3 linked regions of the Homo sapiens genome follow. The protein of the gene in region 1 interacts with the protein of each later gene in a pairwise test. Each region holds a gene or a part of one and is shown in the gene's direction. Other genes may lie near its edges.

Region 1 (7,026 bases):
CGGGTGGACTGGAAATTTCTTTCTTCTCTTGCCAGGCAAGGGAACATAGTGCAACTTCTTTCTATCCCCAACAGTAACAAAAACCTTATAAAGAAAATGTTTTCATTTTTTTTCTTACTTTAAACCCCATTCTTAACAACAAGAACAACAACAAAAATGGAAAAGGGTTAAAAAACCTGTCTAGGCCACGTGTGGTAGCTCATGCCTGTAATTCCAGCACTTTGGGAGGCTGAGATGGGAGGATTGCTTGAGCCCAGGAGTTTGAGACCAGCCTGGACAACATGGTGAAACCCTGTCTCTACAAAAAAAATGCAAAAATTAGTCAGGCATGGTGGTGCTCGCCTGTAGTCCCAGCTACTCGGGAGACTGAGGTGGGAGCATTGCTTAAGGCCGGGAGGCAGAGGTTGCAGTGAGCTGTGATCGCACCACTGCACTCCAGCCTGGGCAACAGAGCGAGACCCTGTCTCAAAAACAAAACTGTCTAAAAGATATAAAGGGAACGAACATATGACGTTTTGTGGCAGTTTGAATGTCATGTTTATTGTATCCGCAGGGTCTCGATCAGTACCTGATATACAGTAGTTGCTCAGTGAATGCAAGCTGAATGAATGAATGTTTTCCTGATTTGATAGTAACTGGGTCTTTACCATTTCTTTTTTTTTTTTTTTTTGAGATGGAGTTTCACTCTTGTTGCCCAGGCTGGAGTGCAATGGCGTGATCTCGGCTCACTGCAACCTCCGTCTCCCGCGTGCAAACGATTCTCCTGCCTCAGCCTCCCGAGTAGCTGGGATCACAGGCACCTGCCACCATATCCAGCTAAATTTTGTAGTAGAGACGGGGTCTCACCATGTTGGCCAGGCTGGTCTTGAATTCCTGACCTCAGGTGATCTGCCCGCCTCGGCCTCCCAAAGTGCTGGGATTACAGGCGTGAGCCACCGCACCTGGCCCCTGATCTTTACCATTTTCAAATGTACTGTATCTTATGGTGCTCCCAAAAACTGTATGAAACATTAACTTAATGAAAGGGGGAGGTATTATTTAGTGATTGTATAAGGCCCACACCTAGATAGCAAGAAGGCTGGAACTCAGGTTTTCAGACTCAAATTACACTCTCTATTTTGTTACTTTTTAGCTATAAAAATAATTTTATGGCTCCATATTCCCTTTGCAAATAAGGACACCTAAAATTTAAGAGTTTCTTAAAATTTCTTTTCTTTTCTTTTTTTTTTTTTTTTGAGATAGATTCTTACTGTGTCACCCAGACTGGAGTGCAGTGGCAGGATCTTGGCTCACTGCAACCTCCATCTCCCAGGATCAATTGATTCTCATACCTCAGCCTCCTGAGTAGTTGGGATTACAGGCACCCGCTGCCAGGCCTGGCTTTTTTTTTTGTATTTTAGTCTAGATGGGGTTTTGCCATGTTGGCCAGGCTGGTCTTGAACTTCTGACCTTAAGTGATCTGCCCTCCTTGGCCTCCCAAAGTGCTGGGATTATAGGCATGAGCCACCGCGCCTGGCTGTTTCTTAAAATTTCAACTCCCTGACCTGCATATAGTCATGACAGTGTTTATAATTTGTATTTGTGGATTCACGTATTTGTGGATTCGCTGTGTTTCAAAGGATCCACCTAATCATTGTTTTCAGCAAAACCAAAAATGTGGACAGTTGTGTAATTTATTATTTGCCTTCTTGATTTCCCACCAAAATCAAACTACCTGTAAATACAGGACACATTCAGATTTCCAAAGAATAGAAATGGTCTAAAGTTATAATCTGTCAGAGTGTGTCTTACCTCTTAGCTAAGCTACCTCTCCTCCTGAGCCTTTGGTAGTTCATGGGAATAAGGAAATGAGACAGTATTTTTGCTTTAGAAGTAGGGTAGTCAAGAAGTCTTGAGAAACGTGAAATTGTCTTCTGAACAACCCACACTTTAAAAAAAATTGCGCTGAAGAATTTTACTTCAGTAAGTAAGTCTATTAGACTCCCCATAGCAGGCCTCAACTTCACCCTTTCGGTTTTCTCTTTCTTATTCAAATATTTTTGTGCCTCAATTATTTGGTTGTGTCTTATTGCTAGAATCAACAGTAATGAGCTGCACTCTTTTATTAGTGTTTCCATTAGAAGTTTAGAGCTAGATCACTGGGGTAAAAGAATAGTGGTTTATGACATAATAGGTATTTTGACTCTACTAGCCTTTTTCTTTTTTTTTTTTTGAGACGGAGTTTCGCTTTTGTCACCCAGGCTGGAGTGCAGTGGTGTGATCTCGGCTCTGCAACATCTGCCTCCTGGGTTCAAATGATTCTCCTGCCTCAGCCTCCCGAGTAGCTGGGATTACAGGCTCCCGCCACAGTGCCTGGCTAATTTTTTGTATTTTTAGTAGAGACGGGCTTTCACCATGTTGGGCAAACTGGTCTCAAACTCCTGACCTCAGGTGATCCACCCACCTCGGCCTCCCACAGTGCTAGGATTACAGGTGTGAGCCACCACTCCTGGCCTATACTAGCTTTTTAAATGCTGATTTTTAATTCCCGTATTATGGGGCATAAACATTTTCACCAGACATTTTGCCTAGGGCAAGGTGATTTACACATCTTTTCTGCATGTCTGATATGTTCTGTTCTTACACGATATTAATCCATTGGAATTTTGTGTTTGTGTGAGCAAGATTCACAAAGGCATATTCCTTTAAATGAATTTCAGAAGAAAAAGTTTCCAGTCCTATAAAGCCTCATATTTGAGTAGTATACTCCTTATCCCATTTCTTCTTCTGGCCAACTCACAAGATTTGGAATTATTTGGAAAGCAGTGACACAAAACATTTTTGAAAAGAAAGGCTAAAAATATCCAATAATGTGGTTATTCTTTTTAGACTTCCTTTGGCAGTCAGTGCATGTCATACGGTTAACATTCTTTTTCTGGGAGAAAAAAAAACTGAGTCTGACCAAATACTTTCTAGTGTGGCCTGATCACCAACTCTTAGCCCTGGGCATTAGCCCTCGCATTTTCCACCCCCAAGTCTCCAAGCATAAGTAGCTGTCTTTCAATAAAGGCCCCAGTTTGAAACGTGTATTTCACTCCTAATTTGGCCAAAGGCCATTGGCTAGCAGTCCCTCTTCAGAGGGGATGGTGAAAAGACAGTAGGATATATGATAAATGCATGCAAAGGAGCTTCTCTTCTATATGACAAGTCTTGGCTAACTTAGCCTCTTTGCATCTTCCTCTGTTTGAAGAGCTACACACATTTGCCTTGTAGGAAGTTTTTATTCTCATGGCAAGCAGGCATTACCTCTATTACAAGGCCCCGCTTATTGTTCACCCTGTGATGTAAGAGCTTTTAGGACTCCAACAATATTAGCCTTCTCTTTAATTCCTTTCAGGCCCCATCGCCATCTCAGAACCATGGCCTGGAGTTGCCGCCCTCCATTCTCCTTAACATGTCGACTCAGAAAAGTCTTAAAGCCCGCTGTTCTTTCCCTTCATAGCAAAAATTATAATTTATCATTATATTTTGTTTAATGAGGACAGAGACTAGCATTTTTTACCTACTACATAATATAAATGCTTGGCACTTAAGGTGCTTGAACAAATGAAAGCCTGCTCATTTTGGATGGATGTCCCAGTATTTGGTACTGTTAGTTTTCCTTTATACACAAATGTACACAATGTCTCCCCCTTTCCAAACTAGACCATAAGCCTTCACAGTATCTTACAGGTAGTAGTGATTTAAAATGGGATGATATTGGTAATATCTGTGATTACTGGTTAAGCATAACTCACTTTATATACTTTCCCCTTGTTTTAAGAAAACTCATCATTTATTCATTAATATATTTAGTTGACAATTTATTGTGTGCCTCCTATGTGCCAGATACTGTTCTAACCTCTGGGGTTAGGGTGGTGAACAATACACAGTCCCTGGCCTCTTTTGGCAATGTTTTTAAAAAGCTTACCCAATAGGCAAATGAAAATATCTCTCTAATTTTTCCCTAAAGAGCTTGCTCCTTTAGTGTATTTGAGGAAACTTTGAAATGTAGTTTTTCAGGAACACACCTATTTTGTAGTGTGGTAAAGCTATACATTGATTGATTGATTGGTTGAGACGGAGTCTTGCTCTGTCACCCAGGCTGGAGTACAATGATGCGATCTCCACTCACCGCAACCTCTGCCTCCTGGGTTCAAGCAATTCCCCTGCCTCAGCCTCCCCAGTAGCTGGGATTACAGGTGCGTGCCACCACATGGGGCTAATTTTTTATATTTTTAGTAGGGATGGGGTTTCACCATATTGGCCAGGCTGGTCTTGAACTCCTGACCTTGTGATCTGCCCGCCTCGGCCTCCCAAAGTGCTGGGATTACAGGAATGAGCTACCGTGCCCGGCCCTATACATCTGTTTAGATGGGAATGTTGACGTGGAAGTGTATCACTTCCTGTTTTACGTCCCTGTGTAAAACAATCACATTTCCTTATTGATGACTGTCTTCCAACAGAAACGTAATCATCTTCAAGGTTAGAAAATGTTTTTTAAATAACTTCAACCAGCGTTAACCAAACTGGTTAATTCACCAAAATGTTAACCAAAATTAACCAAATCAAATTTGGTTTATTTTCCAGGTCTCTTTTTTCTTTTCTTTTTTCATTTTTAAAGAGATGGGATCTTGCTATGTTGCCCAAGCTAAAATGCAATTGTTATTCACAGGCATGATAATAGTGCCCTATAGCCTCGAACTCCTGGGCCCACATGATCCTCCTGCCTTAGCCTCCTGAGTATTCCAGGTTTTTCTTAATAGTTTAAACAGGTAGTTCTGGTTTGGCTATCAGTAGTGTTGTCAAATAGCTTTTGTTTGCTTAATTTTATTTTTATTTTTTTTGAGACAAGTCTTGATCTGTTGCCCAGGCTGGAGTGCAGTGGCGTGATCTCGGCTCACTGCAACCTCCACCTCCTGGGTTCAAGCAATTCTCCTGCCTCAGCCTCCCAAGTAGCTGGGATTACAGGGGCATGCCACCATCCCCGGCTAATTTTTGTATTTTTAAAGTAGAGACGGGGTTATACCATGTTGGCCAGACTGGTCTCAAACTCCTGACCTCATGATCTGCCCTCCTTGGCCTCCCAAAGTGCTGGGATTACAGGCGTGAGCCACCACGCCCGGCCTTTTGTTTTTGTTTTTGTTTTTTTTAAATGGAGAGGGCCAGATAATGCTCTAGGAAGGATGTCAGAACCCATAAAAAATGATGAGTATTTGAAATATATGTAAAAACTTAAGTAACAAATCAGAAAATATATTCTGAGATAGAAGTGACCATTCTAAAACTGTGCTGTACAATACAGTAGTCACTAGCTACATGTAGTTTTTAAGCAATCGAAACGTGGCTAGTCTGATTGAGATTGCTGTGAAAAATACACACTGGATTTTGAAGATTAGAAATGTACCCTAAAACTTAAAGTATAATAATAAAAAAAAAGAAAGAATGTAAAATATGATAATTAAAAAATTGCAATTACATGTTGAAATGATAATATTCGATAATATTTGAGTTAAGTAAATTTAATGTTACTTATTTTTTAGCATGGCTATGGAAAACTTAAAATTATGCATGTGGCTCGCATGATATTTTTGTTGAACAATGCTGTTTGCTGAAGCAGGGCTGGCAGCCCTTGCCAGAGGTTTGAATCTCCATTGTCTTGGTGGCTGCAGATGGATGGATGTGGGGGTACCAGCCTGGTGTGTTGGGAAGATTTTTCTTTGTGAAGGGGAACTTGCCCTTTACTGTTGGGGATAGTTTCTTCTCAGCCTATCCAGGGACACACATACCAGCATTTTGGGGTTGTGAAACTTTTGTGTGGGGAACTTCCCTTTTTTTTTTCCACATGAGCCAATAAGATAAAACTGACCTAATGGCATTCTCGGTGCAACTCTGCCTTCAGTTTAAGGACAGAAGAGGGCTCATGTTTCATAGAGTATTAAAGGAGCAAGCTTAATATTTTGCATTTTGTGGACTGTAATTGCTAACTGCTGCTACATGATTCAGTCAGCTAAGAATAATTTACTAATTATATATTGCCTCACTTGGTTCTTTTTCCAGATGCTAAACAAGGTGAGATAATTAGAGGAGGAAAAAGGGTGAGTTTGGGAATTGGAGACCAGAAGGATGGATTTAGAAGATCTTGGAGTTAACGGACTTAGAATATAGTCAGCAAAGAGTTCACTTAAAATTAGTGCAGGTTGCCAGGCGTGGTGGCTCACGCCTGTAATCCCAGCACATTGGGAGGCCAAGGCGGGCGGATCACGAGGTCGGGAGTTCAAGACTAACCTGGCCAATATAGTGAAACCCCGTCTCTACTAAAAATACAAAAATTAGGCAGGCATGGTGGTGCATGCCTGTACTCCCAGCTACTCGGTAGGCTGAGACAGGAGAATCGCTTGAACCTGGGAGGTGGAGGTTGTGGTGAGCCGAGATTGCGCCACTGCACTCCAGCTTGGGCAACAGAGTGAGACTTTATATCAAAAAAAAAAAAAAAAGAAATTAGTGCAGGTTGACTGTGTGTGTGTGTGTGTGTGTGTAGTTTTCTGAATTCATTTTTCAAGTATTGAATATTCACAATGATGCTAGACTAAGTGCTAGAGATTTGGTGGTGAACGAAACAGATTGAAACCTGCCTTCATGGGGGGCGTATATAGGTTCGTCTGACTAGTCTAGATAAGTGAATTTGTGTAGTAATTGTTTTTTTGTAACTGGCTTAGTTTACTTAGCTTGATGTCATCAAGATTTATTCATGTTGGAGTATGTGTCAGAATTTCCTTCCTTTTAAAGGCTGAATAATATATCCATTGTATGTATATATCACTTTTTGTTTATCCATTGATTCTTCCATAGACATTAGGATTGCTTCCACCTTTTGGCTCATGTGAATAATGATGCTGTGAACAGGGGTGTACAAATATCTCTTAAAGACCCCTCTTAAAACTTTTTGCGATATATACCCATAAGTAACAGTTGCTATAGAATCATATGGTAATTCTGTTTTTAATT
Region 2 (7,026 bases), on another chromosome or scaffold:
AGTAGAGACAGGGTTTCTCCATGTTGGTCAGGCTCCATGAGGTCAGAGCTCCTGACCTCAGGTGATCTGCCTCCCTCAGCCTCCCAAAGTGCTGGGATTACAGGCATGAGCCACCGCGCCCAGCCTATGTGTCAGTTTTATTGGGAGGTAATAAGGCCCTAGGAAATTCTTGTTAAAAATTGACCATTATGACTAGAAAATCTATTCTAAGTTATTGACTAGACCAGTGATAAGCAAATTTCTTAAGGGGGCAGATAATAAACCTTTTGCCAGGCTATACAGTCTCTCTTTTAGCTGTTCAACTCTGTGGGAGCAAGAAAACAGGCACAGACTGTGCGTAGTGAATGGGCATGCGGGCTGTAGTTTGCCAGTCCCTGGAGTTAACTTTAAATGCAATCAAACAGCCAACACTTACTAAGAAATAAGTCCTTGGACTTAAGTAGTCAGTAAATTTAATTAGTAGTGTAGGAAAAAAGTAGCTCTACTAGTAAGGTAAAATTAATATTCTCATGTGAATTTTTAATTCCCAGAGTTTTTAGTCAGATTTGAAGTAAGGCTCTTTTATCCTTAATACATATACTGTGCTTTTACCTTTCTACTGATGTGCTAATTCTAGAAAAGTTTAGAAGCTGATTATATAAGTTCTTTCTTCCTCTTTTTTCTTTTTTAAAGATCACTATGTTGTAGTTGGGGCCCAGAGAGATGCATGGGGCCCTGGAGCTGCAAAATCCGGTGTAGGCACAGCTCTCCTATTGAAACTTGCCCAGATGTTCTCAGATATGGTCTTAAAAGGTAGAGTACAAATTTTGATTCTTTTGAATATTGGTGCACTGCATACAGTTCTAGATGTTATACTGTGCTTTGCTCACTTTGCCTGCATTCCTGTGGTTCTCATGCTAGACTCTAGTTCTTAAATACAAGGCAGATTGTCTTTTGTTGTAGCTGCCTTTTCCTTTGAAACAGCTTTCCATAAAGTGTCTTAACTGTGCTAGAAATCACCAGTTTCTTTGAGACAGTGGAGTTACTGAGCCCTAGTGCTTAGTGTGGTGGATCCAGAGTGATAAGGTGGATCATAGTCCCTAAGCAATCTATTTGAAAGCAGTAGCATACCTCTCTACTCATGTACTGAGGCCTAACAGCTATTGAAATTTTGTTCTGTTTATTCATTTATTCATTTTTTGAGACAGAGTTTCACTCTGTTGCCCAGGCTGGAGTGCAGTGGTGTGATCTCACTTAGCTCACTGCAACCTCTGCCTCCCGACTTCAAGCAATTCTCCTGCCTCAGCCTCCTGAGTAGCTGGGATTACAGGCACCCACAACCACACCCGGCCAATTTTTGTATTTTTACTAGAGACAGGGTTTCGCCATGTTGGCCAGGCTAGTCTCCTGACCTCAAGTGATTCACCCGCCTCAGCCTCCCAAAATGCTGCTAGTGAGCCACCGTGCCCTGCCTCTTTTGTTTATTTTTGAGCCTTTCTGTCCTACTTTCCACTCTTTCACACTCCTACCCACCCACACATTCAAAATCACGTCACATTCTTGAATCTTTGGGTCTTAGGGCAAACTGCAATGCTTAACTTTAATACAGAGTACATTAATGGAGAAAAAGATACAGTGAGGGAAGTGGGAGGGATGGAGGGCAGTGTGATACATGTAACCTCAAAAGGTGCTGTCACAAATATAGTTTCTCTGCAAACTCTTCTTGTAACTTAAATTTGTGAATTTTTATTTTATTTTAGAATTATTTTTTTAAAAATCCAATGTTTGGATTTACCTCTGAAGATTTTTCTCAAGATGTGCATCATCATGCTTACACTGTTTTCAATGATCTCTGGGTCCAGAAGTTAAGGAACTCCAAGAATGAAATTGTGAAAGGGTGACTACTGGCCCCTGCTATGTACTCAAAATCTTATTTGCAGATCTCCTATCTTGCTCTTTGTAGGTTACTTTAAAAAAAATTATTCCTATTCTTTTATTCTTTTACCTGGGGTCTCAAAAAAAGATTTTGTTAGTTTTTTTTTTCTTTTTTGGCTCAGAAAAAAAAGATTTTGGAATCTGCTATCTTGGAATTAGACCTTCTGATTCATCTTAAGTGGGATACCTTCCATCCTTGTCTGTGTATAACCTTTCCTCAGGTAAAGCTAACTTTTTTCTCTTTCAGATGGGTTTCAGCCCAGCAGAAGCATTATCTTTGCCAGTTGGAGTGCTGGAGACTTTGGATCGGTTGGTGCCACTGAATGGCTAGAGGTATTCTTTATCATCCCTTCCCATATTGGACACGAGCTTGTGGGCTTAGGCTGTTGTCCAGAAGTGATGTTTTTATAGGTTTGATTTTACCACTTTTGCCTTTGCGTTTAGTCTCAGTAGAGTCCAGAATTGAAAATGAATCCCTAATGCTACTGTATGTGATAAATAAACAGATTTATACTTATTAGTGTTTTCCCTTCTCTTCTAGGGATACCTTTCGTCCCTGCATTTAAAGGCTTTCACTTATATTAATCTGGATAAAGCGGTTCTTGGTAAGTATCCCTTTCATTAGCTGTGTATGAATTCAGGTAAACTTTTTTGAGATGGAGTTTTGCTCTTGTCGCCCAGGCTGGAGTGCAATGGCACGATCTCGGCTCACTGCAACCTCTGTCTCCCAGATTCAAGCGATTCTCCTGCCTTAGCCTCCTGAGTAGCTGGGATTACAGGTGCTCACTACCACACCCAGCTAATTTTTTGTATTTTTAGTAGAGACAGGGCTTCACTATGTTGGCCAGGATGGTCTCGAACTCCTGACCTCAGGCGATCTGCCTGCCTCGGCCTGGGATTACAGATGTGGGCCACTGTGCCTGGCCAGATAAACTACTTTGAAGTGGAAGAAAGCTTTTTTTTTTTTTTGAGACAGGGTCTCACTGTATTGCCCAGGCTAGAGTGCAGTGGCACAATCTTGGCTCACTGCAGCCTTGACCTCCTGGGCTCAGGTGATCCTCCCACTTCAGCCACCTGGCTAATTTTTTTTGTAGAGATGGGGTTTTGCCATGTTGCCCAGGCTGGTGTCAAACTCCTGAGTTCAAGCATTCTATGTCAGCTGCCCAAAATGCTGCGGTTACAGGCATGAGCCATTGCCCTCAGCCTGTATCTTAACCTTCCTTTAAATAGTCTGTCAAGTTACACAGTGAGCACAATTGCTTGTCTAGAACAGTGGGTAGTTCTCAGTGTGGCCCCCAGATGAGTAGCATTAGGAACTGTTACGAATGCAAACTGTCATGTCTACCCCAGACCTTTGAGTCAGAAATGGGAGTGTTGGTCTAAAAACTGGGCTTTTTGGGCTGGGCGCAGTGGTGCACGCCTGTAATCCCAGCACTTGGGAGGCCAAGGCAGGCGGATCACCTGAGGTCAGGAGTTCGAGACCAGCCTGGCCAACATGGTGAAACCCCGTCTCTACTAAAAATACCAAAATTAGCCGGGTGTGGTGGCGAGTACCTGTAATCCCAGCTACTCAGGAGGCTGAGGTAGGAGAATCACTTGAACCCGGGAGGCAGAGGTTGCAGTGAGCCAAGATGGCGCCATTGCCCTCCAGCCTGGGCGACAGAGCGAGACTCCATCTCAAAAAAACAAACAAAAAAACTGGGCTTTTTTTTTGGCAACCCTTGGGGAATAAAAACCTATTATTTTCTTAAGGACAAAGTATCCTGAAGCAAAAAAACCCAAACAAAGAAACAAAAAACTTTAACAAGCACTACAGGTAATTCTGATGGACTAAAGTTTTAGGACCATAAGTCTGGACTATATTGAGGTGAGAAGAAACTAAACTATGCCATATAGAATGGTACTTAGAGAGTAATTCACATCCTGTTACGTTGTGGCATCACTGATAGAAATATTGGATAATGAAACTTCTAGAAGAGTTTGAATGTTCACTGGCAGCAGAAAATTGACAAAAGGGTTTGAATGTTATTTAAAGTGCAGCTGTACATTCAACAGGAATGGGGTAAAAAAGAAAGTGCAGATGTAGCTGATGAGCTGAGAATAGTGAAATGTCTACATGGGGGAAAAAAGGAAAGAGTTACAATTAAACCTCTCTAGGTTAGTTATTTCCCTGTTGTATGTTTGCCGCAGAATGTGCTGAGTATAGCAAGCATACTATGTATAGCTCTAACCTGGGTGAACCAGAAAGTTAAACATGAAATTGCTAATGGGGGAGGCTGCACATGTGTGGGGGCAGTGGATTTATGGGACCTCTAGGTACCTTTCTCTTAATTTTGCTGCTGAACCTAAAACTGGTCTGATTTTTTTTTTTTTTTTTTTTTTTTTTTTTGAGATGGAGTCTCGCTTTGTCACCCAGGCTGGAGTGCAGTGGCGCCATCCCAGCTCACTGCAAGCTCCGCCTCCCGGGTTCATGCCATTCTCCTGCCTCAGCCTCCCGAGTAGCTGGGACTACAGGTGCCCGCCACCACACCCGGCTAATTTTTTGTATTTTTAGTAGAGACGGGGTTTCACTGTGCCAGCCAAGATGGTCTCGATCTCCTGACCTTGTGATCCACCCGTCTGGGCCTCCCAAAGTCCTGGGATTACAGGCGTGAGCCACCGTGCCCGGCCTAACTGCTCTGATATTTTTAAAAAAGGTGACTTGGATTAAAGTATGCAAACTCAAGGAGTAGTACGAGCCCACTTGAGTGAAGTTAGCTTAGTTGCTAAAGAGCTTGATACCAAAATTACTTTTGTTTACTTGATGAATGGGATAGTTGTTGCACAGGGCCACTGATCTAGATTACTGTCTTATTTGTCAAGTACTTATAGTTGTAGAAGTAGCAGTGTGAAAATTATCGGAATGGAGAAGGGGCAATGATAAAACAATTTATTTTCAGGTACCAGCAACTTCAAGGTTTCTGCCAGCCCACTGTTGTATACGCTTATTGAGAAAACAATGCAAAATGTGAGTATATACCTCATTACAAAAATGTATGACTTAATTTTTGTTGAATCAACCTGAGATAAAAAACACTGATATGTAAACCGTAGTCAGTAACAAAAAATAGGAATTGAGAATAAATTTTATAGCAGCGTTATTTAAGGGATACTTGCCTATTGAACCATATGAGATGAGGGCTCCAATCTTAAAGAATATGTTGTTTATTTAGGAATATATAACAAAATGCCATGAGGCCTAAGCTGTAGTGCAGGGGCCCACAGGGGATTGTCTATAGAGTCACAATGCTAAGGAAGGCTTAAATCAACTTGAACTATACTTTGAGAAGGCCGGAGGAAATATTCATTGAATAAACAATTACCATAGTTTTGAATGAGGGAGAGCATGTGAAAGAAAATATTTGCCTATGTGGGGTGGGGGGAGGGGAGAGGGATAGCATTGGGAGATATACCTAACGCTAGATGACGAGTTAGTGGGTGCAGTGCACCAGCATGGCACATGTATACATATGTAACTAACCTGCACAATGTGCACATGTACCCTAAAATTTAAAGTATAATTAAAAAAAAAATAAATAAATAAATAAAAAAGAAAATATTTGCCTAATGGGATTAGAGGCTGTATATTGGAGTGAGTAAAGTTAGAAACAGGTCAGATAGCAGACATTGGCCTTGATCCAAGAGATACTAGGGATTATAGGATCTCAAGCAAGGTGATCATGAATTTGCCAGTTAGGTTGGTGGCATAAGATGCACTAGAAGGAAGAAACCAGAAACAAGATAGGCATAGTGTGAAGCCCAGAGAGGGCTTTTACAATTGTGGGTAAGCCACCATGGTTTTGTTTGTTTGTTTGTTTGTTTTTGAGATGGAGTCTTCCTCTGTCTTCCTCCAGCACTCAGGCTGGAGTGCAATGGTGCGATCTTGGCTCACTGCAGCCTCCACCTCCTGGGTTCAAGCGATTCTCCTGCCTCAGCCTCCTGAGGAGCTGGGACTACAGGTGCACACCACCACACCTGGCTAATTTTTGTATTTTTAGTAGAGACGGGGTTTCACCATGTTGGCCAGGATGGTCTCAATCCCTTGACCTCATGATCTCTTGACCTTGGCCTCCCAAAATGCTGGGATTACAGGTGTGAGCCACCGCGCCCAGCTTTTATTCATTTTTTTTTCCTTTTTTTTTTTTAAGAGATAAAGTCTTGCTGTGTTGCCCAGGCTAGTCTCAAACTTCTGGGCTCAAGTGATCCTCCCAGCTCGGCCTCCCAAAGTGTTGGGATTGCAGTTGTGAACTACCCCACCCGGCCTAGGCCCACTTTTAAAATGTTAATTAAGAAGAAAACATTTTTTCCTCACCATAACTAAAGGAACTGACAACATGAGCCTAGTTAGTAATAACTTAAAGTTGAGATTGTTTTAACTATCATAAATAATTTCTTTTCAAGAAGATATAATACAAGTTTTTTATTTAAAAATTGTTATAGAGTAACATGTTAGTGACTAGCCTGAATAAATAAGTTCCAAAAGGTTAGTTTTAATGATAATTTCTTATCTTACAGGTGAAGCATCCGGTTACTGGGCAATTTCTATATCAGGACAGCAACTGGGCCAGCAAAGTGTAAGTTGAGAAAAGTGAATGAACAAACTAATAGAAAAGCAGAGATTCTACCTACTACATTAGGTAGAATCTAAATCTGTCCTTGCATTGAACTTACTTACACCTAAAGATATTCAGCTAAAGAATTTATTTTGGATGGGGGGACTAGCACGATAGAACAGTCTATTCTTTAAAACACTTTCTAAAGACACATTCTTTGTCTTTGCAGTGAGAAACTCACTTTAGACAATGCTGCTTTCCCTTTCCTTGCATATTCTGGAATCCCAGCAGTTTCTTTCTGTTTTTGCGAGGTAAGTCTGTTCATTTAAATGACAAATGGAGAGAGGCTCTCTAAAAGGAAGTGATCTGTATTTGGGAATAGGGCATTGCAATGGGAATGCCTGTGCTATAGTCAACTATGTACATATTCAGAGGAGTAAAGGAAAACAAGTTTTTAAGGACAAATGACGAGGATTACAAAATTACTTTGAGGTAATTATTCTTGGCTACCAAGATCAAT
Region 3 (7,599 bases), on another chromosome or scaffold:
GTCAACGTTCTGAAGGAGGCAAAACCCACACGCAGAACCAGCCATAGGCCTGTCAACAAGGCGAGATGTTATCATTGCTCATGTGCTGGGTCAGGATAAGGCCATACAGACCGCCCAGTTCTCTCTGATCTGGGTGTAGTTAATGACAGTTTATCCGCCTTTTTCTTCTCTCTCACCACTCCCCATGGTGGGGGAGGAGAAGGACTGGGAGGACTTGAATACTCTGAATTGGCACCAGGTGCTTAATATAGTCCTGAAAATAGAAGACCAATATGCTGTTGGCACATAAAGATGCCCACAATTCTAGAATCTGAGTGCGCCCAGATGATCTCTCTTTACATGGCCTAATTTGGGATCCTGACAAGTTCCTTCTGCCCTCTGCCTCACTTTCTCAATCTAGGAATGGGCCTCTCGGTTTTTGTTTTGTCTAATTTTAAGCTCTCGGCTGTGCATGGCAGAGGCAAACTTGAAGACGCAAGGGTCAGTGAGCAGGGCCTTTATCCAGGTATCTCAAATATCTCCCAACCCTGATTAAAGTTACATATCTCAGAGAAGAATTTGGTCAACACCATTGTTGTCATTCCTGGTTAATAACAGGGAAGTTGAGGTCTGGGAAGCACCCTAGTGATGTGTTCACATGGCCATGTGCTTCTGTAAAATTTACCAATGTAAGGCATCTTAACCTCATTCTGTTAAAACCACTATCTCCTTTCATTCCAACTTCCCTTTGCATCAGATGATGTTGGGGTTGGTGTGAGCAGTTTGGGCATCTTGCTAAAAGGACCTTAACATTTACTTTGGGTTTAGTGGGATATATTTATATTGTTTCCAGTCACTTTTGTGAAAAATTATTACTAACTGACCTGGTATTGAAATGGCTTCCAGGAATATATCCATACCGAGCATACTGAGCTGACTCAACTTGTCGTGGCATCAAGATTCAGGATCAGAGGTTATATCTCAAGATATATGAATGGTCCTACAGCACTCAGTTCCACAAGACTGTGAAGGAGAGGTTTGAATGTATACACGGAGCCAGCAGCTAGTTTATGGAAAGTATTACAGATGTGTTTGAGACAGGCAGCTAATAAAAAGAATGTTATTTTTCTGCGTTTTGTAACGTTTGTGCAATTTCTCTTTTTTTTTTTTTTTTTTTTGGAGACAAGGTCTTGCTCTGTCATCTAGGCTGGAATGCAGTGGTGAAATCATGGCTTACTGCAGCCTCAACCTCCTGGTCTCAAGCAATCCTCCCTCTCAGCCTCCTGAGTAGCTGGGACTATAGGCACGTGCCACCATGCCTGACTAATTTCTTTTTTCCTTTTTTTTTTTTTTTTTTGAGACGGAGTCTCACTGTCGTCCAGCTTGGAGTGCAGTGGCACAATCTTGACTCACTGCAACCTCTGCCTCCCAGATTCAAGTGATTCTCCTGGCTGAGCCTCCCAAGTAGCTGGGATTACAGGTGCCCACTACCACGTCCAGCTAATTTTTTGTATTTTTAGTAGAGATGAGGTTCTGCCATGTTGTCTAGATTGGTCTCAAACTCCTGAGCTCAGGTGATCCACCAGCCTCGGCCTCCCAAAGTGCTAGGATTACAGGTATGAGCCACCATGCCTGGCCAGCTAATTTCTTTTTAAAATTTTTTTGTAGAGCTGGGGATCTCGCTTTGTTGCCCAGGCTGGTCTGAAGCCCCTGGGCTCAGGCACTCCTTCCACCTCGACCTCCCAAAGTGGTGGGATTACAGGCATGAGCCACCTTATTGTGGTTTCTTGTCTCTTTCTAACCAAATCTTCACTTTATTACTTAATTTCATATCTGTAATTTTTTCTTAAAGAGGTCTCCCTAGGGCTGGACGTGGTGGCTCACGCCTGTAATCCCAGCACTTTGGGAGGCCGAGGTGGGTGGATCGCCTGAGGTCAGGAGTTCAAGACCAGCCTGACCAACATACTGAAACCCTGTCTCTACTAAAAATACAAAAAATTAGCGGGTATGGTGGCGGGCACCTGTAATCCCAGCTACTCAGGAGGCTAAGACAGGAAAATCACTTGAACTTGGGAGGCAGAGGTTGCAGGGAGCTGAGATCGTGCCATTGCATTCCAGCCTGGGCGATAAGAGTGAAACTCTGTCTCAAAAAAAAAAAAAAAAAAAAAAAAAGAAGTCTCCCTAGGCTGAAGCTACCTGCTCAATCTTCTCTTGTGTCTTATAGGATCACAGGATCCCCCTTGCCTTACCTCACTGTTACTCCCAAACAGTTCTCACATGTTTACAAGGGAATGTAACAGAGTGGATCAGAGAATTCATTCTGGATCCAGACCGACCTTAGTTTTCTCATCTATATAATGGGAATAATAGCAGGATCTCTCGCCTTAGATAGTCATGAAGTCCAATGAGATGATGTGTATAAAGCCCTAACACAATGTAGCAGAGGGCACAGGGCCAGGATTGATATTTAGCTGGTCCTCACGGATACAGCAGACTCCCTGTTTATGACAGTGGTTGGCTCTGATTTGGTTGGTGTCCATGCCAGAGTGTACAATCATTATTAGCTATTGATATATTATTAGCTCCCTCCCCTGCCCACCCAGGGGTTTACGCAGTAAGTTCTCAATTATTGGCAATCCAAACAAAGAATAAAAGACACCAGCTGGAATGAAACAGAGAAGCTGGTTCCAAATTGAGCAATTCAGACTGACTGCTATAAAATTTCCTCACCTTAAAGGCCCTTAGAGTTAATTCATTCTAATCCCCCTAAAAATATACTTTTTTGACATGTTCAAGTATTGGAAATTTGGAAAATTCACAAAAACACAAAGAAGAAATTAACTGCTGTGATTATAGATGATTATACACATATACATATGTATTTAATACATATTTATGCTGTACATAGTGTTTTGAAGCATACTGTACTTCAAAAAAATTTGGGAGGGGTGCATTGGCTTATGCCTGTAATCCTAGAAATTCAGGAGGCCAAAGCAGGAGGATCACTTGAGGCCAGGAGTTCTAGACTGGCCTGGGGCAACATAGCGAGACCCGTAGCTTGACATGGTGATGCGGGCCTGTAGTCTTAGTTACTCTGGAGGCTGAGGTGTGAGGATTGCTTCAACCTAGGTTACAGTGAGCTATGATTGCACCACTGCACTCCACCCTGGGCAACAGAGCTAGACCCTGTCTCTAAAAAACATAAATAAACCAATGTTTAATACTTAGCATTTCCCCCTATCTTTAAATATCTTCTAGCTACTTCACTTTTATTTTTATCTTTTTGAGATGATCTCTTGCCCAGGTTGGGGTGCAGTGGCATGATCTCAGCTTACTGCATCCCCCACATCCCAGGTTCAATCTATTCTCCTGCCTCAGCCTCCTGAGTAGCTGGGATTACAGGCATGTGGCACCACGCCTGGCTAATTTTTGTATTTTTAGTAGAGACGAGGTTTCACCACGTTGGCCAGGCTGGTCTTGAACTCCTGACTTCAGGTGATCTGGTCGCCTCAGCCTCCCAAAGTGCTGGGATTACAGGTGTGAGCCACTGCTCCTGGTAGCTACTTCACTTTTAATGGCTGCATAATATTCCTCATCAGAAAGTGGGAAAAATTAGGCTAGGTGGCGTGGCTCATGCCTGTAATCCTAGTACTTTGGGAGGCTGAGTTGGTAGAATTGCTAGAGCTCAGGAGTTTAAGATCAGTCTGGGCAACATGGCAAAACCCCATCCCTACAAAAAATACAGAAAATACCGGGTGTGGTGGTGCACACCTGTAGTCCCAGCTACTTGGGAGGCTGAGGTGGGAAGATTGCTTGACCCCAGGAGATTGAGGCTGCTGTGAGCTGAGATCCTGCCACTGCACTCCAGCCTGGGCGACAGAGTGAGACTCCATCTCAAAAAAAAAAAAAAAAAAAGAAAAGAAAAAGATAAAGAAATAAATAAAGTGTTAATAATTAAAAGTACTTTTAGAGGGTTATGTCATAAGCCTTGACAAGACTTGTTCTGTAAAGCTACCCGGCATGCAAAAAGCTCAATTAAGTTAGCTCCTCCACAGGATGGAATTATATAACCAATCCCTTTCAAGAGGCATTGAAGTTGTTTCCATTATTTTGCTATGATGAATAAGGCTGAGCAATATTAATCTTTGCTCATATCTTTGGTCATTTCCTTTGTAAATTTCGGGACTGCTGGGTATGCACATTTTAAAATTAACTCACTCATCATCATGCAGTTAGGAGAACAGAGAAAGGAAGGGGCTTGCACCGGGTCACATAGGGAGTTAGCGTCAAAGTCAGGACTAGGAACCAGCCAGGGCCCTCTAACTGGAGCTCTTCCAGCTGGGGTCCTAGAGGAAGTCCCAGCTGGCCGCGGGAGGGAGGAGGAGGAAGGGAAAGAACCAGGCGCCGGGGCTGAAGCGGCGGCAGGAAGAAGGTGGGGCCGGCTGGGAGGAGCGGGCGGAGCTGCTGAGCAGCGCCTCTCCTTCGGGCGGGGGAAGCTAAGCGGTCGCCTGGCAACCCTGGCGGCGCGCCGTTCGAACGGAAGCGAGGAACCAATCAGGAAGTCCGGGGCGAACCATTCTGGTGTGAAGGGGGGCGGCGTGCTCACTTCCCCTTCCACGGCGCCCCAGGGACTTTCCCTGCGGTGGGGGCCTTCGACAGTGAGGGCCACCCGCTCAGCTCGACCGCGGAGGGCAGCTCCAAAGGGGACCCCAAAGGTGCCCACGCGGGGCTGGGGCCTCCTGGGCGTCGTTGGGAGCGGCCACTACCGGCCCGGGTCCGAGCTGTCAGCCTCTCCAAAGCCTGCGCGAGAGGAGCCGGGACACGCCTAGCGCGGGCTCCAGGTGAGGGCGCGGGTGGGTCCGGGTGCGACCCCGGGTCTGGGGGCCCCGTTCCCCGAGCGTCTGCTGTCTGCTTTCTCCCCGCGTCGTACCTGCGTGTCATTTCACAGATGAGGACTCTGAGGCTCAGAGAGGCAAGTGTCCCGGCCCGGCGAGCTCTGGCGGAGAATCCAGTTCAAGTCTTTCTGCCCCACCTCGCAGCCCCCTAGTCTAGTCACATCTGGACTTGCCTTGAGAGGCCCAGACGGGCAACTGGTAGTCATTTTCCCAGCGTTTTATCGGCAGGGACCTGTAGACCCCTGGCTGGATCACATATCCCCGCGCCCCACACTGTCCTCGGGATACCCCCTTTGGGCGTCTGTCTTTCCTTCTCCGCAGTCCGGGGTTGGACTCGGCTCATTTGGCGCCTTTCTGTCTACGGGGACAGAGGACCACTCTTTGGGGATCGGACGGGACTGACATTTCTGGGCTGGATGCAGGGGCAGCAGATTCTCCAGCCCCCAGAGCCGCTGCTGGCCTCTTGGGAATCATCCCCAGTTTGGGGAAGGGAATAGAGCCAGTCCCTAAACCAAAGCCACTAGTCACCAGAGACTTTGGAATTGGGAGTGGGGCCGGAATCCCCCCAGGTGGAGCAGCTGACCTAGGCCAGACCCTGCTGTGTCTCCTGGGGACACCCCCTGCCCCCTAGGTTGCTATTGTCAGTCTCCTTTTGTAGGTGGGGAAACGGAGGTTCTAAGAAGTTAAGCCCCTTTTCGAAGTCACAGTCAGACAATGCAGTGGTTAGCTCCTAGTCCCTCTGGCTTCAATCTTAGAATCCTTGACACACAGAATCATGCATTTTGAGAGTCTTCAATCTCTTCATAAGGGAGTTACATATCCTCTCTCCTCTGGAGCCTGCCCCTGGCTTTGGGGGACAGGATCTCCGAGGACTCAGAAAGAAAACAAGGCTTTCTTTTATTCTTTCAACAAATATTATTTATTGACTTCATAAGCCCTGCTCTGGTTCTTGCATGTTTTGGTTTTTTTACTTATTAGCAAATGTATCATCTTCTCCCACTGTGATGCAAGGCAGGGGCTGAGGCAATTGAGCCAGTGCAAAATTTAGGGATGCCCAAAACCTCAGTAATCAAGACTGAAACTAACGTTCATGGACCATTTGTGTGTTCTGCAGGCAGGAGGTTAACTCACACAGCCTTCATGAAGTGCAGTCCTCCCATCTCTCTCTCTCTCTCTCTCTCTCTCTCTCTCTCTCTATATATATATATACACACACACATATATACACACACACATATATGTATATATATGTATGTGTGTATATATGTATATATGTGTATATATATGCATATTTATAAATCATGAAACCACTGCCCTGTCCCTGAGTTGCTCTGTGACATTGAGTAAGTTTCTTCAGTCTCTGGGCTGAGCTAAGAAGTCATGATGGTGCACTCAGGCCTGGGCAGAGGGCAGTCTAGGATAGGAAGTGGGCTTGGCTGTGGATCTGCCTCCCCCTCCCCTTTCTAATCCTGCGTGCCAGGCCCTTCCCCAAGACCTTGCATGTGTTATCTTCCATTCTGTCCTCACTGCAAAATCCTTCATCCCCATTTTGCAACCTCAAGTGCAGACCTAGGCCTAGAAGATCAACTTGGTATCAGTGGGCCTAGATGTCCACATCCACACCCATTCCACAGCCTACTCCCTTCTCCCTTCCTAATGTTAGTGCAAGGCCACCCTGAGCAAGGCTGACTCCTGGGCAGGCCAGGGCACCAGCGTCTGGGAGGCCTCCAGAAATAGCTCAGGGCCTGGTGTGGCTCTGGAGGTGGCCCAGCTGGGTGTCCCTGACCTGGACAGCTGGGCTGAAATTGAGCTGGGGCTGCCCTGCTGGCTGGCCCCTTGCCACTGCCTGGAGCCTTCCCAATCTCCTCTGGGGCAGGCAAGGGCCTCCCCAAATCTAGGCCAGGCTTCTGCTGAAGGGAAAGAAAGAAGCAGGTGGGAGGAAGGGGGCGGGTTGGGTGTAGAATGTCATGAAAATTATAACCTTTGGAAACCACACCTCCCACCCCCTCACCAAAGAATAAAAATCACTAACACCTCTTGAGCATTTACTATGTTCTAAGTACTTTACAAGTATGAACTCATTTAATTCCCTCAACTCTGTGATATAAGGTAATTACTGCTGTTCTTATTTCCATCTTGCAGAGGGGAAACTGAGCACAAGAGAGGTTTAATAATTTGCATAAGATAACCTAGAGGTGGAGTTTGAACCCAGAGAGTCTGGCTCTAAATTTTACATTTTTTGGGGGGGGGGGTGGGGTGGGGCAGTGAATGAATTAAAATGTATATAAAATAAAATTTACCATTGTAACCACTTTTAAGTATACAGTTCAGTGGCATTAAGTACATTCCCCATTGCCTCTCCCCCCAGTGCCTGGCAATCACCATTCTACTTTCTGTTTGAGTGAATTTGACTACTTTGGGTACCTCTAGGTATTATAAATGGAATCATAACAGTATTTGTCTTGTTGTGTCTGGCTTATTTCACTTAGCATAATGCCTTTAAGTTTCACCCATGTTGTTGTATGTGTTAGAATTTTCTTTTTTATGGCGGAATAATCTATTCTAATATTCTATGTATATGCCACATTCTGTTTATCCATTCATTCCTTGATGGACACTTGGATTGCTTTTGGCTGTTGTGACTAATGCTGCTTTGAGCATGAATGTACAAATATCTGTTTGAGTTCCTGTTTTTAATTGTTTTGGGTATACACTCAGAAGTGGA

The links. Proteins that work in one complex are often made in the same cells at the same time.
Region 2: the proteins of RASSF3 (region 1) and TFRC interact in binary tests that used the Homo sapiens proteins (3 or more experiments, as listed by UniProt).
Region 3: the proteins of RASSF3 (region 1) and FAM110A interact in binary tests that used the Homo sapiens proteins (3 or more experiments, as listed by UniProt).

What each region holds. Positions count from the first base shown.
Region 1 is NC_000012.12:64,613,481-64,620,506, forward strand, and holds part of RASSF3 (ras association domain-containing protein 3), read left to right. Parts: intron 1-7,026.
Region 2 is NC_000003.12:196,058,075-196,065,100, reverse strand, and holds part of TFRC (transferrin receptor protein 1), read left to right. Parts: intron 1-672; coding exon 673-792; intron 793-2,161; coding exon 2,162-2,247; intron 2,248-2,455; coding exon 2,456-2,519; intron 2,520-4,853; coding exon 4,854-4,921; intron 4,922-6,468; coding exon 6,469-6,527; intron 6,528-6,735; coding exon 6,736-6,817; intron 6,818-7,026. UniProt on the Homo sapiens protein: Cellular uptake of iron occurs via receptor-mediated endocytosis of ligand-occupied transferrin receptor into specialized endosomes. Endosomal acidification leads to iron release.
Region 3 is NC_000020.11:829,132-836,730, forward strand, and holds the start of FAM110A (protein FAM110A), read left to right. Parts: upstream 1-4,583; 5' UTR 4,584-4,820; intron 4,821-6,921; exon of another isoform or gene 6,922-7,599.